2 separate regions of the Homo sapiens genome follow, and region 1 is linked to region 2. Evidence: fine-mapped expression QTL. Tissue or cell type: whole blood. Region 2 holds a variant in brackets; the other region holds the start of a gene. All regions are shown on one strand. Distances are from middle to middle.

Region 1 (7,184 bases), 26 kb after region 2:
CTGAGCTAGAAGTTAAAACTTGGACCAGTATGACCCCAAGTACAAAGGAAGTATGACCCATACCCAAAAATGGAACCCAGCCTCAATCAGCCAGAGTTACCATTGACATATCTGGAATTTTCAGTAGTTTTGTCCTCTGTTCTATCACTACCTAAGTTAGTCCAAAAGTTCACCCTAAAAGTCACATTAACCCCAGGGCTTTGGGTAATGAAGAAATCACATCTTGAGCCTAGAGAGAATCATAGCATTTCTTAAATAGGCAGCCCCAAAGCAGTTTCCTTTCCCACACTGAAATTACTGGAATGGTTTAGTGGTCCCAGAAACTGGTAAGACTCGTGCCCAGGACAGTTAAAAACCCCAGGATCAACAAAACTTGTACGAAGTAAAAAGAACACAAGCTTGTTCTCTATTCTGATGTTTATTTGTTGTGTTTTGTTTTAGAGACAGGGTCTTGCTCTCTGACCCAGGCTGCAGCGCAGTGGCACTCAATCATGGCCCACTGCAGCTTCGACCTCCTGGGCTCAGTTGCCCAGGTGATCCTCCTGCCTCAGCCTCCTGAGTAGCTGGGACCACAGATGCACAACACCACACCCAGCTAATTTTTTAACTATTTGTAGAGACAAGGTCACACTATGTTGCCCAGGCTGGTCTTGAACTCCTGGACTCAAGTGATCCTCCCTCCTTGGCCTCTCAAAGTGCTGGGATTACAGGTTTGAGCCACCACACCCAGCCTCTATTCCGAAGTTTAAATCACATACCTTGAAAGTCAACTAATAAATGTTCCTAAATAAGTATAAGAATTTAAAAATAAAAGTCATTGCCAAAGAGTTATATTTTGGAACATTGCAAAAATACCTGCTCATAGGTCGATAGTCTATGCCACATCATCTAACTGGATATTAATAGATGAGCAATCACTCACCATATCCTGTACAGTTAACTTCCAATTTTTTAGGAAAGGACACAGGAATACAGGTAAATAAACTGAAACCCAATTCTCATTTTAGCCAACACTTTTTAAATTCCTCCTCCAATGAAATGTATTTTTTATCAGCGCTAACAGGTAACAATTTATTGATCCAAACGTCTTTTCCTTCAACAATCTGATAGTTGTCCAAATGATCATTATGACAACCAAAATTAGAAAACAGCAGGGGAAAAAGAGTGAGAGGGCTTGGAGGGGTGGAATGGGATAGGTAATTCATAAATTGGATAAACAGAGGCCTCAACAAATGCCTATTTGTCATAATCTAAAGATGACTGACCCATTGTCATCTCATTTTTAATACAATGACCAAGTCCCTGAAGCCACCTGGTAAAATGTAAAACGAACTTCTGAAAAGAAATTGAGGATCCAGGATTCTACCATCAACAGTAGTTAATAAAGTTTACAAGCCAGCAGTTACTAGTTCTCATTAAGAATTAACTGATATTTCATAACCTGATCCCCAGTAAGCTTATTAATAAAAAGCAACGGAAATTTCGGGCTGGGCATGGTGGCTCACACCTGTAATCCCAGCACTTTGGAAGGCTGAGGCGGGTGGATCACCTGAGGTCAGGAGTTCAAGACCAGCCTGGCCAACATGGTGAAACCCTGTCTCTACTAAAAATACAAAAATCAGCTGGGCATGGTGGCGGGCGCCTGTAATCCCAGGTACTCGGGAGGCTGAGGCAGGAGAATCACTTGAACCCGGGAGGCAGAGGTTGCAGTGAGCCGAGATTGCACCATTGCACTCCAGCCTGGGCGACAAAGCGAAACTGTCTCAAAAAATAAAAATAAAAAATAAAATAAATAAAAAGCAATGGAAATTTGGAGGAAGAAGTAGTGAATCAGCCTCTCTCTTCCATGTGCTGTATTTTATTGGAATATGAGTAAGTATAAGGGTAATATGAGAAATGGGGGGGGGGGTTCTAGTCACCAAAATGGCATCTGACTCTCCAAATGCAGCAATGCTCACTCCAGTGGGTTGCTTCACTGTGACTCAAGATCTGTCAAATGAGGACATAAGGGAATTTGAATAAAGCCAAGATACACTCCTAAAATAAACCAAATCTTCCAATAGACCTAACAGAAGATGTAACAAGAATCAAGAAGCTAACCTACTCAACATAAATTGATTCTAAAATACTTTTTAAAATGAATTATTGCTAATGCAAAAATTCAGGAAAGAAGTCTAGGAATTTGTTTTCCTAATGGCACATTCCATTTATCTGTTGGTAGAGGTCACTAAAATACATTACTAGGTGTCTATGTATCCCTCCCCTGTTCTCCTTTTATAACCTTATTCTTCAAAAATAAAAGGTAATTAAGTGAAAGCATCAATTAAATATGTCCTTCCTTTCTCAAAATAGATAAATACGAATATAACTGAATCTTTGTTTTATAGTATATGCCCACTACGCTGTACGGCAAACAACCATGGCAAATCCACTGCATTATGAACAAAAGTAAATTGTCGCCCCCAAAATATAACTATCCATTTCGACCCAACCAAAGGGAAAATAATTTTCCCAATCCTCCAATTATATGCCAAAAGAATTAGAAAATACAGGAAAAAAAGATTCATAGAAGCTTGTATAAATGTCAAGTGCCAACATTTCACTAATAACCAAGATTTCCTATTGTACTGACTTTTAATTGTATCAAATCATGAATCTTCTAGGGCACAGAAAACAAAGACTAAATGGTTCTGCCAATTTACAATGATCATATTTCACCTTTAGAAGTGTAATCGCCATGGAAGCAATGAATTCATCGAATTCATCTTTCTCTCTCCACTGATTAAACGGATCCTGCACTACAGGCATAATCGGCTAGTTTCTGCCACCACTCATACATAGGCCTCCAACGCACTCTACAAGCCAGGGCTACACTGCCTAGAAATCCGCACTGTGTCACTGCATAAGGCAGTTTCCCACTGCACACATCCAGAAGAATAAAGTCACCTAAGCACTCTTGTCAGATCTTAGCAAGGCTGCAAAATGACAGGAGTTGCTAACCAAATAGCAGGAAGCAAAAATCACCACCTTTAAAAATCATTTAAGCAGTTTTCCTTTCCGCCATCTCACTTCCCTCCTCCTCCTCCTCGTCATTCTCTCTCTCTCTCTCTCACACACACACACACACACACACACACACGCACGCACGCACGCACGCAATGCAGTTCATCCCCAGCTTTGCAAGTGACATGCTGGGAGCTCTCTCTGGACAGCCGGCCCAGAACTCATTCAGAGCCCTCAAATACAGACATTCTCACCTGAACACGCCAGGCAACTTCCACCCGCACCATCACCTCCACCCTCCCCGACACACACAGACTCGCCCTCGCAAGCTCTACCCATACCAATCCCCCAGCTGCAGAAAGCCCAGTAGGCTCACTGCAAGCGCAGCACGCGTTACCACTTATAAGCCGAGTTGGGCGGCCTAAGCTTCAGAAACCGCCTCTTCACGCAGCCCACCCCCACCACCCCGGCGCGGCTGGACCCCTGGCCCGCCAGGTGGGATGCGCTACCTTTAGACTGGCAATCTGCACAAAACTTGTTATCCTCCTCCAGCAGCAGGTTGGCCAGGACAGCCTGGTACCGATCCACGTCCTTCACCGACTTGCCTGTCATGGCCAGGGTGCCGGCGGGGGCAGAGGGCGACGCGCCCTCCTCGCCCCCAGAGACCCCTGCCTCAGTCCGGGGTTGAGGACTCCCGGTCCCCCGCCCAGGGGCACCTCCTGAGCGGGGAGAGCCCTCTCCTCCGGCCCCGCCGGACGCCCCTTCCCGGGTCGGGGGCGTCCGTCCCCCACTCCGCAGCCCCTCGGCGCGGCGCCCCTTGGCGGGCTTAGGGACAGGCCCGCCTCCAAGAGAGGCTGCGGGGCCAGAGACCCTCAGCCCAGGCAAAGGCGGACCACGAGCCTCCTGGGTGCCGGACGCAGATGACCCTCTGGCCGGCCTGTCTGCTGGCCTTGCGTCCCGCGCCTCGGTTTCCCTGGCAGCTGCCGTCAGCTCCGCTACCACCTCCACCGCCTACTTCCGGCAGCTCTTCCTCCCCACCTCCACCCTGCCCAGCTCGCGCATGCGCCCCGCCCCCACCGCGCCGCACTGGGCTCTTCCTTCAGCTCCGCCTCTCGGGAACCAATCCGTGGAGAAGCGGGGGGCGGGCCTTGGGTGGGGGCGGAGGGAAGGGGTGGGCACGCCCCCTGCGTGTCCTTGGAAGAGAATGAATGGAGCCTGGTAGAAAGGGAGTGGAGGGAATGGAAGAAAGTGAAGGAAGACAACAACTAACATTTACTGAGCTCTTACTATGCGCTAGGCACTGTGTTAAGCGCTTTGCATGAACTATCCCAACATAATCCTCACAACGACCCTATGATCATCCTTATGTAACCTGAGGGTTGTTGATACCCCAAAGTCCTCCAGCTTGTTTTTTCCAACAGCCAAATATAAGAGTCCAAGCCCCTAACCCAGGATATAGGAACGTCACCCCCTCCCCACATTTTCAGAGGACTCTGGTCACCTCTCACTTGGAATACCTGCTCCCACTAATACTCATTAGCTCTCCTCTGTGACTCCTGCCTTTTTGGATATTGTTTGGCCTGGTGCCCAGACAGTTTGTTTCTTCTTCCATTTCTTAAATTCTCACAAAACAGCGAGTTTTTTGTGGCAGACTTTTACTGAACGTTATTTGGGAAGGGTGGGGGACAGTGATTAAAGCATAGCACACAACAGGCAACTCCTTAAAAATGATTATTAAACATCATCATCCAAAGCCACCGTTGCTACAGATAATTTCTCATTGGCTGTCCTTTTCCTTAGGGATCCACCTGCCATCTGGCTTGTGTTTTCATTCACTCATTCATTCATTCATTCACTGAGCACGATGTTACTGAGAAATTTCTAAGTATCAGGCACTGTACTAGGGGAGAGGGAAACAGCATGATCCGATTTGTGGTTTTAAAAGGTCACTCTGGCTGCCATGGAAATAATTAATCAGGGAAGATAGTAAGCAGATGCTAAGAGTTATCTAAACTCTGGTGAAACCCTCTCCTCCATTTCTTTACTTTCTCCCAAGACCAGGATCCCCTCAAAGCTTTCATCTCATCAGAGGAAAACTAAACATTTCTATTACTTTATTAATCACAACAATTAAATTTTCTGGCTAAGCCTCTTCCCTTCTAGCCATGCCTAGGGGACTTGACTTTTAAAAACACACAAGTTCATTGGGGTGTTTTTCCTCAGAAAACCCATCCAAGTAGGTATTACCATAACCATTTTTCAGTTGAAATAGACAGTCAAGATTAACTAGTTACTGGGTGTGGTGGCACATACCTGTAGTCCTAGCTACTCAGGATGCCAGAGCCAGAGCATCACTTGAGCCCAGGAGTTGGAATCCAGCCTGGGCAACACAGTAAGAACCACCCCTCCAACCCCCAATGTACCCCGTTACCCTGTCTCAAACAACAACAACAACAACAAAACCCAGTTAATTGCGGTGAGTGGTGATTGTACCTTAGTTCAAGCCCTCCCCATCTTCATCTCCTCACTCTGCAAATAGCCTTCCTGCCTTAGTCTAAATCTGGTTAAATTAATCCTTCACCGTGCTCTCTAGAGGGAGCTTTTAAATGCCAATTCTGATGGACTCACACTTCCTGCTTAAAAAATCCTTTAGTGGCTCTCCATTGCCTATGGCAGTGTTTCTCAAATTGTTCCCACCTAGTGAGAGATCTCATGGCTTTGTGGTTAAGCACACAGACTCTGGGGCAAGAATGCTTAAGTTTAAATCTTCAGCTTTTACCACCTATTATCTGTGTGACTTTGAGCAGGTTACTTAGCCTCTTGGTGCCTCAGTTATTTCATCTATAGAATGGGAATGATGATAACATTAATAGTACCTATTTCACAAGATTATTATGAGGCTTAGCTGAGATAATGCCTGTAATATAATTAGAACAGCCCTTGGTAGATAGTGAATGATAGACAATTAGCGCTCTTCACTAAATATTTCTGGCGTTTTGCCTTCTGAGCACATGGTAGGATTTTATTTCCTGGCCTTCAAGTGATTGGGAAAGACCAATGAGTTTGAGCAGAAAGGATGGATTACTTTGTCTCTGAAGCATTTATTTGTTGCTTTGAGCCTCTTGTGCTTCTCTTTCCCTCTGGCATGGCAACTATTGATGCTGAAGATGTTGGTTGCTCTATTAGCCTGGATTTCTGTGTAGCTGATAAACAAGAGCTCTCTGCCAGCCCATAGAGGATAACTTAGCATAAGCAAGAAATAAGCATTGTGTTGCCATTGAGTTTTGTTTGTTTACCACTGTATAAGCTAGCCTATCCTAGCAGATACATCAAGTATTAGCTCTTTTTATTATCATTACTAATAGCAGAGTAAAGTGAGTGCATAGCCCAGGGTCTGAGGATATAAACAAAGCAAACTGCTCCTCCCAAGTACACATTTTTTTTTTTGAAGTCTTGAATTTTGCTTTGACTAGTCTTGCAAAAATGTTCACTCTGTTCCATCATGCACATGTTATCTTATCATAAAACTGTTTCCACATTAGTTATAAAATTTTTTTTTTTGAGACCGAGTCTCGCTCTGTCGCCAGGCTGGAGTGCAGTGGTGCGATCTCGGCTCACTGCAACCTCCGCCTCCCAGGTTCAAGCAATTCTCCTGCCTCAGCCTCCCAAGTAGCTAGGACTACAGGCACGTGCCACCACTCCTGGCTAATTTTTTGTATTTTAATAGAGGCAGGGTTTCACCCTGTTAGCCAGGATGGTCTCAATCTCCTGACCTCGTGACCCGCCCACCTCAGCCTCCCAAAGTACTAGGATTACTGGCATGAGCCACCGCGCCTGGCCAGTTATAGAATTTTCTTTTCTTTTTTTTTTTTTTTTATTATACTTTAAGTTTTAGGGTACATGTGCACATTGTGCAGGTTAGTTACATATGTATACATGTGCCATGCTGGTGCGCTGCACCCACTAACTCGTCATCTAGCATTAGGTATATCTCCCAATGCTATCCCTCCCCCCTCCCCCTACCCCACCACAGTCCCCAGAGTGTGATATTCCCCTTCCTGTGTCCATGTGATCTCATTGTTCAATTCCCACCTATGAGTGAGAATATGCGGTGTTTGGTTTTTTGTTCTTGTGATAGTTTACTAAGAATGATGATTTCCAATTTCATCCATGTCCCTACA
Region 2 (7,184 bases):
ATTACCTGTGTGACCTTCTGAGAGATACTTACATTTCCTGAGCCTTAGTTTCCTCATCTATAAAACGTGTACAATAGCATTCACCTCACAGTGCCCTAGAACACAGAGGGACAATAACTGAGGACTATATATAAGGATGTGGTATAGAATAAGGTTTCCAGAACCCACTTCCCATCCATCTTCCTGATAAGGGCCAGTTAACTCATTCATATATGTAATATATACCAACACTCTATGCAACACCACGGAGTGCTTCTTTTTATTTTATTTTTTTGAGACAGAGTCTCGCTCTGTCGTCCAGGCTGGAGTGCAGCGGCGTGATTTTGGCTCACTGCAACCTCCGTCTCCTAGGTGCAAGCAACTCTCGTGCCTCAGCTTCCCGAGTAGCTGGGACTATAGGCGCGTGCTACCACACCCCACTAATTTTTGTATTTTAGTAGAGACGGGGTTTCGCCTTGTTGGCCAGGCTGGTCTCAAACTCCAGACCTCTGGTGATGTACCCGCCTTGGCCTCTCAAAGGCCTGGGATTACAGGCGTGAGCCACCGCGCTCAGCCAGAGTGCTTCTTTTTTAAAAAGGAATATGAGTTCTGGTCCTAAAATATCAGAACCAAAATGAACTGAATACAGAGAGAAGAAATTTACCCTAGACCCAATTTCAAAGTCTTCTAGGCAACATGAAAATTTAAGCAGCTTCCTTTATTTCTCTTAAAATATTTCTTGAAAATGCACTTTTTAAACCCTCACCTGTTCCCTTTCTCTGCTACACACCCCCACCCTGCCCTTGTGCTTGCATATGCCCCCACTACACAGGCAAAGAAAGAAGGCCCAAGGCTGTCAACCTAAGTGGTGGGTACTTGGATTCCACAGTACCTGGTATTGCTGCTATAAGGCCAGCCTACTTTAATCTGGTAAACTTGCAAAAATGCAAGTGAAACCAATTGTTTCACTTAACATAATGACCTCCAATTCCATCCATGTTGCTGCAAATGTTAGTGAGTTAAAAAATAGTGGATCTCATGAAGAGAGAGTAAATCGGTGTTCTAGAAGCCAGGAAGGGTAGGCGGATGGAGGAAGAAATGAGGTTGATTAATGGGTACAAAAATACAGTTAGTCAGCCTGGCCAACACGGTGAAACCCCATCTCTACTAAAAATACAAAAAATTAGCCAGGCATGGTGGCACGTGCCTGTAATCCCAGCTACTGGGGAGGCTGAGGCAGGAGAATTGCTTGAATCCAGGAGTCAGAGGTTGCAATGAGCCGAGATCACACCACTGCACTCCAGCCTAGATGACAGCGAGACCTTGTCTCAAAAAAAAAACAAAAATACAAAAATACAGTTAGAAGAAATAAGATCTAGTGTTCAATAAATCAGTACAGTGACTATAGTAAATAATAATCTACCATATATCTCAAAATAGGTAGAAGAGAATAATTCAAATATTCCCAGCATAAAGAAAAGATAAATGTCTAAGGTGACGGATATAGCATTATCATGATTTGGTTATTACACATTATGTGAATGTATCAAAATATCACTTGTACCCTGAAAACATGTACATCTATTATGTATCAATAAAAAGAGATAAACCAATTGTTTAATACACATTGGTCATGGCAATCAAGGAAAAAAATATAAAAGATGCCATTTTGAAATTTAAAATGAAAAGAAATGCTGAGAGGCAATATGCCAAACAATTTTGAAAGCAAAGAGGATAGACAAGTGATGTAAACTGGTAGTGATCGGCACAACACAAGAACAAGGTCACACATAAGTGCACATATTCAACAGGAGCCTAAGAGCAGGCGTGGGCAGCATCAAGCAATACTAAAACTAACATAGAATCACTCTGCAATAAGGGATCAGGGAAAATGAAAAAAGTAGATGGAGATGGATTTGGTTGATCAGTCAAGAAATCAACTGTCCTAAGTACCAGTTCAGTATCGGAAAAATCTGGGTTTACACGGACCTGTTGCATGTATTTTGACAAGTTTCTCTAGGGCTTATGTCTCCATTTGTAAAATGAAAAGCATATACGTAATATCCAACTTATATTCAACATCTGGACAGCTTCTACATACGGAGTAACTACTGCTGCAAATTCCTCTTGCTGCTGAAACTTCCCCCACCACCAAAGCTGCCAGGATTAGAGGGGCTCTGGGATTGACAACTCAGCAGACAGAAAAGGGGAACTAGCGTGATGGAGGACTTCAAGCTACTACTAATATTATAATAATTATATCATTGAGTTCTAATCTATGGAGTTCCAAACAAATAAATATTGAGGAGGAAAAAACATTGATAAATTGATGGCTACCTATATTTAGACCTGCTGGCATAACGGACCTGTCAAAAAGTTCAACGGGCAGGCTACGCGAAGGGAGAGAACTTTCCCATCTTCCATCCAAATCCTGTGGAATCTATCTTGGAAACTTTTCCAGAATCTATCCATTTCTACCTAGACCTCATGTCTCACCTATAAGCATTCGTTCTTTTTTGTGTGTGTTTGTTTGTTTTGAGACGGAATCTCGCTCTGTCACCCAGGCTGGAGTGCAGTGGCGCGATCTCGGCTCACTGCAAGTTCCGCCTCCCGAGTTCACGCCATTCTCCTGCCTCAGCCTCCCGAGTAGCTGAGACTACAGGCGCCCGCGATCACGCCCGGCTAATTTTGTTTTTGTATTTTTAGTAGAGACGGGGTTTCACCTTGGTAGCCAGGATGGTCTCGATCTCCTGACCTAGTGATCCGCCCTTCTCGGCCTCCCAGAGTGCTGGGATTACAGGTGTGAGCCACCGCGCCCAACCAGCATTGGTTCTCTTAACATTATTTATTGTGTACCTATGTGCCAAGCAATTTGCCTGCTAAGTACTGGGGATACAAAGGCAGAGAAAATAAGGATGAGATTCCTCAATTCAAAAAGCTCACAGACTAACAAGCAATTAGTCTCCAGAATCCCACCACCAGAATAATCTTTCTAAAACACAAATCTGTACAGATCACACCTCTAAATATAAACCTTCCATGTAGTCTCATACACAAAGGTAAATATGTAAATTGGTGCACATTTTCTGAATAGCATATTCCAAACTAAGCTCTCAATCTCTTGCTACAAAATCTCTTCCTTTTTTCTTCATCTTAGTCAACTACACCTCCATCCATTCCATTGCGTCAGTCAGAAAATTATGCATCATGAAACCTCTCTCCTTCAGCCCCCACATCACCAAGACAAAAATATCTGTCAAATCAGTATCTCTTCTCTCCATCTGTATCACTATTTCTGTAATCTAAAGCCACCAGACTCTTTCGGACCACTGCAATAACCTCCTAATAGCTCTCTCTCCACTTTTACATTCTCTTCTCCCTTGAGCCCAAACCAAAACCATTCTCCACCAAACAGCCAACTTGAGCTCTTAAAGAAGCAAAGCCACATTGTGCTGCTTAAAATTCTTCTATTACTATTGGATTAAATAACAAAATCCTTAACATAGTTTCCAAGGTCTTAAAGGTCTAGCCCATGCCTCCTTCCGCAGCCTCTCAATTCCTATGGTAGCAGCCTTCTTTCATTTCCTCAAGGGACCAACATGTTCCTTCCTCAGGGCTTGCTGGACTTTGTACATGCTGCTCCTGCTGCCTAAAAAAACTCTTTCCCTAACTGCCAAATGCCACTTGCAGCCTGGCCAACTCCTATACATCACAAGGGTCTCAGCTGAAATGTTTCTTCCTCAAAGGAGTCTTTCCTTGGCTCCCCAGTCTAAACCCGACTGTAACATCTCTTCTACCCTTTCTTTTGGTTTTTACCTTACAGAAAATTTCAAACAAACGAAAGCAGAGCATAATTAACCATGAGCTTCAGCAATTATCAACTCCTAGCCAATTTTGTTTCAGCTATACTCCCACCCACTGCCCCTCAACTCCAACCTGGATTATTCTGAAGCAAATCCTAAATATCATACCATTTCATCTGTATATACTTCAGCATATATCTCTAAAAGATAAGGACTTTTTTTTTAAAGGTTATGAACTTTCATTTACCCTTTACTCTTTTTTTCACTCTTTCTTTTCTTTTCTTTTTTTTTTTT[TG/G]AGACAGGGTCTTACTCTCTCACCCAGGCTGGAGTGCAGTGGTGCGATCATAGCTCACAGCAGCCTTGGGCTGTCAGGCTCAGGCAATCCTCCCACCTCAGTCTCCCAAGTAGCTGGGACTAGATGCATGAGCCACCACGCTCAGCTGAATTTTTTATTTTTGTAAAGATGGGTCATTGAGTGGTGTTAAGAGTCAGGAAAAAAAAAAAAGAGAAAGAAAGAAAAGAAAAAAAAAAGAAATGGGCCAGGCACGGTGGCTCACGCCTGTAATCCCAACACTTTGGGAGGCAGAGGTGGACAGATGACCTGAGGTCAGGAGTTTGAGACAAGCCTGGCCAACATGGTGAAACCCCATCTCTACTAAAAATACAAAAAAAAAAAAAAAAAAAAATAGCCACACGTAGTGGCACATGCCTGTAGTCCCAGCTACTTGGGAGGCTAAGGCAGGAGAATCACGTGAGCCCAGGAGGCGGAGGTTGCAGTGGGCCGAGATCCCACCACTGCACTCCAGCCTGGGCAACAGAGCAAGGCTCTGTCTGAAAAAAATAAAAATAAAAATAAATCAATGAAATAAAAAAGAGACAGGGTCTCACTATGTTGCTCAGGCTGGTCTTGAACTCCTGGCCTCAAGTGATTTTCCTACTTTGGCCTCCCAAAGCACTGAGATTACAGGAGTGAGCCACTGTGCCTGGCCACCCTTTACTTTTTCTAAATCATACCATATTTTGTTACTATCTAATTATTTGATTGTTTAAGATGTCTTTCCCGCTTAACTATGTGTGCCACAAGAGCTGTCACCAGACCTGTAACATTCACTATCATATACTCACGGCATAGCATGGTTCCTTGAACATAGCAGGGAAGCAACATTTGCTTAAAGATTAATTAAAACTAAGTATTCTAGGTGCAGTGGCACATGTCTGTAGTCCCAGCTATTCAGGAGGCTGAGGTTGGAGGATCACTTGAGCCCAGGAGTTTGAGGCCAGCCTGGGCAACATATTGACACCCTATCTCAAAAAAACAAAAGAACTAAGTAAATCCTTTGACCCCACTTGTAAGAATTCATCAGGGAAAAAACAGGTCAAGTACACAAAGAAATACGTTAAGAATGTTCATTATTACATCTTTATGAAAATTAGAAACATTAATAGGTTACATTAAGGAATTATGGTATCACCATTTAACGGGGAAAAATTTTGGAGCCTCTATTTCATATAAAAGTATCTCCATGATATAGTAATTTTAAAAATCCAGTATTAAAAGAGTACACATGAAACAATTCCATTTTTTTTAAAATATGAATAAATGAGCTCGGTGTGGTGATATGCCTCTGTAGTCCTAGCTACTTGGGAGGCTGAGCGGGAGTACTGCTTGAGCCCAAGGATTCAAAGGCTGCAATGAGCTATGATTGCACCATGGCACTTCATCCTAGGGAACAGAGTGAGACCTTGTCAAAAAATAAATAAATAAATAAATGTACGCGTATGCACAGAAAAAAAATCTAGAAGACTATATGTAAATTATTACTATATCGGGATAATGGGATAATGAAACATCTATTTTCTTCTCTATATATCCTCTCTGAATTGTTTGCAATGAGCTTTCTATTAATTTTGCAATGGGAAAAACCAGTACAGATATCGTAAAAACAAAACAACGTAAGCATCCAGGGCTCCTTACTGGCTGCAGGGTAAGTTGAAACTCCTTAACATAATATATAAAGTCTGTTGAGAGCCTTGTACTTTACACATGCTGAGGAAGTCATAATTGTGAAATATGCAGCACACTCAAATCTCTTTGACTACACCATTCTTTCTACCTGGAATGGCTTTCTCCCTCATTCCCTGCTTGACAAACTTAAAAATCCAGTTCATCTGTGATGCCCTCCAATGGAATAAACCCTAACTTTCTCTATTGCTAATAGCCCAGGGTATGCTTTGTTCTTCTAATACTTAATATCTTGTTCGAGTTGCTTACAGGTCTCTCTTGTCCTAAATAGACTATGAGCTCTGGAAGGCAATGACCATGTTCCTTCATCATTTATCACAAACACTTGACACAATGCTAGCAAACAGAAGATGGTACACAATAAATGTGTGTTAAATGAATTCGTCAATAAGCAACATAAATGTATATATTTTTCCTGTTTTGCAAAATGAAGGGAGAAGTTTTCAAATGCCTTAAAGGATAGCTGTAACACAGAAAACGGATTAGGTTACTTTGGAAAGGCTTCAAAAGCAGAACTGGCACCAAGGAGTAGAAGTTGATTTTAGCACACTCTAGAGAAAAATTTTCTAACAATTAAGGTTGTGTAAAAACCAATGCAGCATATCCAGAAATTGTAAAATCTCAGTTAGTGCAGTGTTCAAACAGAGGTTTGGTAATCAGTTCTCAGGGATGGTAGAGAAATGATCCCCATGTGGTGAATTGGGTGAACAATGAGCCCTACAGTTCTTTCTACTACTACAGTCCTACTACTACAGTAGATGATTTGCAGTAATTTTTAGGTCCCTTCCTGCTTACCGTTCAATGGTTCTGAAAACGTAAAATGAAACAAACAATCTATGAAGATGTTAGGTCTTGAGGAACCTAAAACACGGAATCAAATTTGGTTCATGGAGCCTATACCAGGCACTGAAAACTGGTTAAATGCAACATACATATAAGGAAAAACCTAAATCAACAAACTCAGATTTTATAAGAGATTAATTCTACGTGACATAACTTGTCATTAACTCTGACCCAAAATTTGGAAGTCAAAGTAAAAAAAGCAGCAGTATTTGTTTTAAGAACAAATCTAGTGCCAGTTACCTCAGTTCCACTCATTATATCCCTCCATTCTCTGATTCACTGAAAAGGAAGAATACACAGAAACACCAGTGGGATCTTGGAAAAATTGTGTAGGGCTGCTGAGAGGTATGTTTACCTCTATGTTTTCATCCACACAAAAGAGAGTTCATCAAGTTCCTTATTCCAAAATAACAATAAACAGTAACTTTGAACTTCTGTAAGTACAAACATTTTAAGGAACCATGAGACCAAAATAAAGGCTTATGCAATCAACCTCTGCTTTCAGAACACTTGCAAGACAAGTCCCTTTCCATCTG

Evidence for each region. PIP is the estimated chance that this variant, and not a neighbour inherited with it, causes the effect.
Region 1: SMAP2 starts here. The variant in region 2 is fine-mapped to the expression of SMAP2 in whole blood (INTERVAL, PIP above 0.99).

The regions. Positions count from the first base shown.
Region 1 is chr1:40,370,552-40,377,735 of GRCh38, reverse strand. SMAP2 (small ArfGAP2) reads right to left here and starts at 4,009. Exons shown (of 10, transcript NM_022733.3): 1 at 3,513-4,009. The coding sequence starts at 3,615. RefSeq lists an enhancer at 3,252-3,751 and silencers at 3,737-3,876, 3,947-4,266.
Region 2 is chr1:40,396,595-40,403,778 of GRCh38, reverse strand. The region is part of intron 1 of SMAP2 (small ArfGAP2); the gene reads right to left. Among named protein-coding and RNA genes, the nearest start is that of SMAP2, 26 kb to the right of the region's middle. The variant TG/G (reference allele first, on the strand shown) is at 4,077.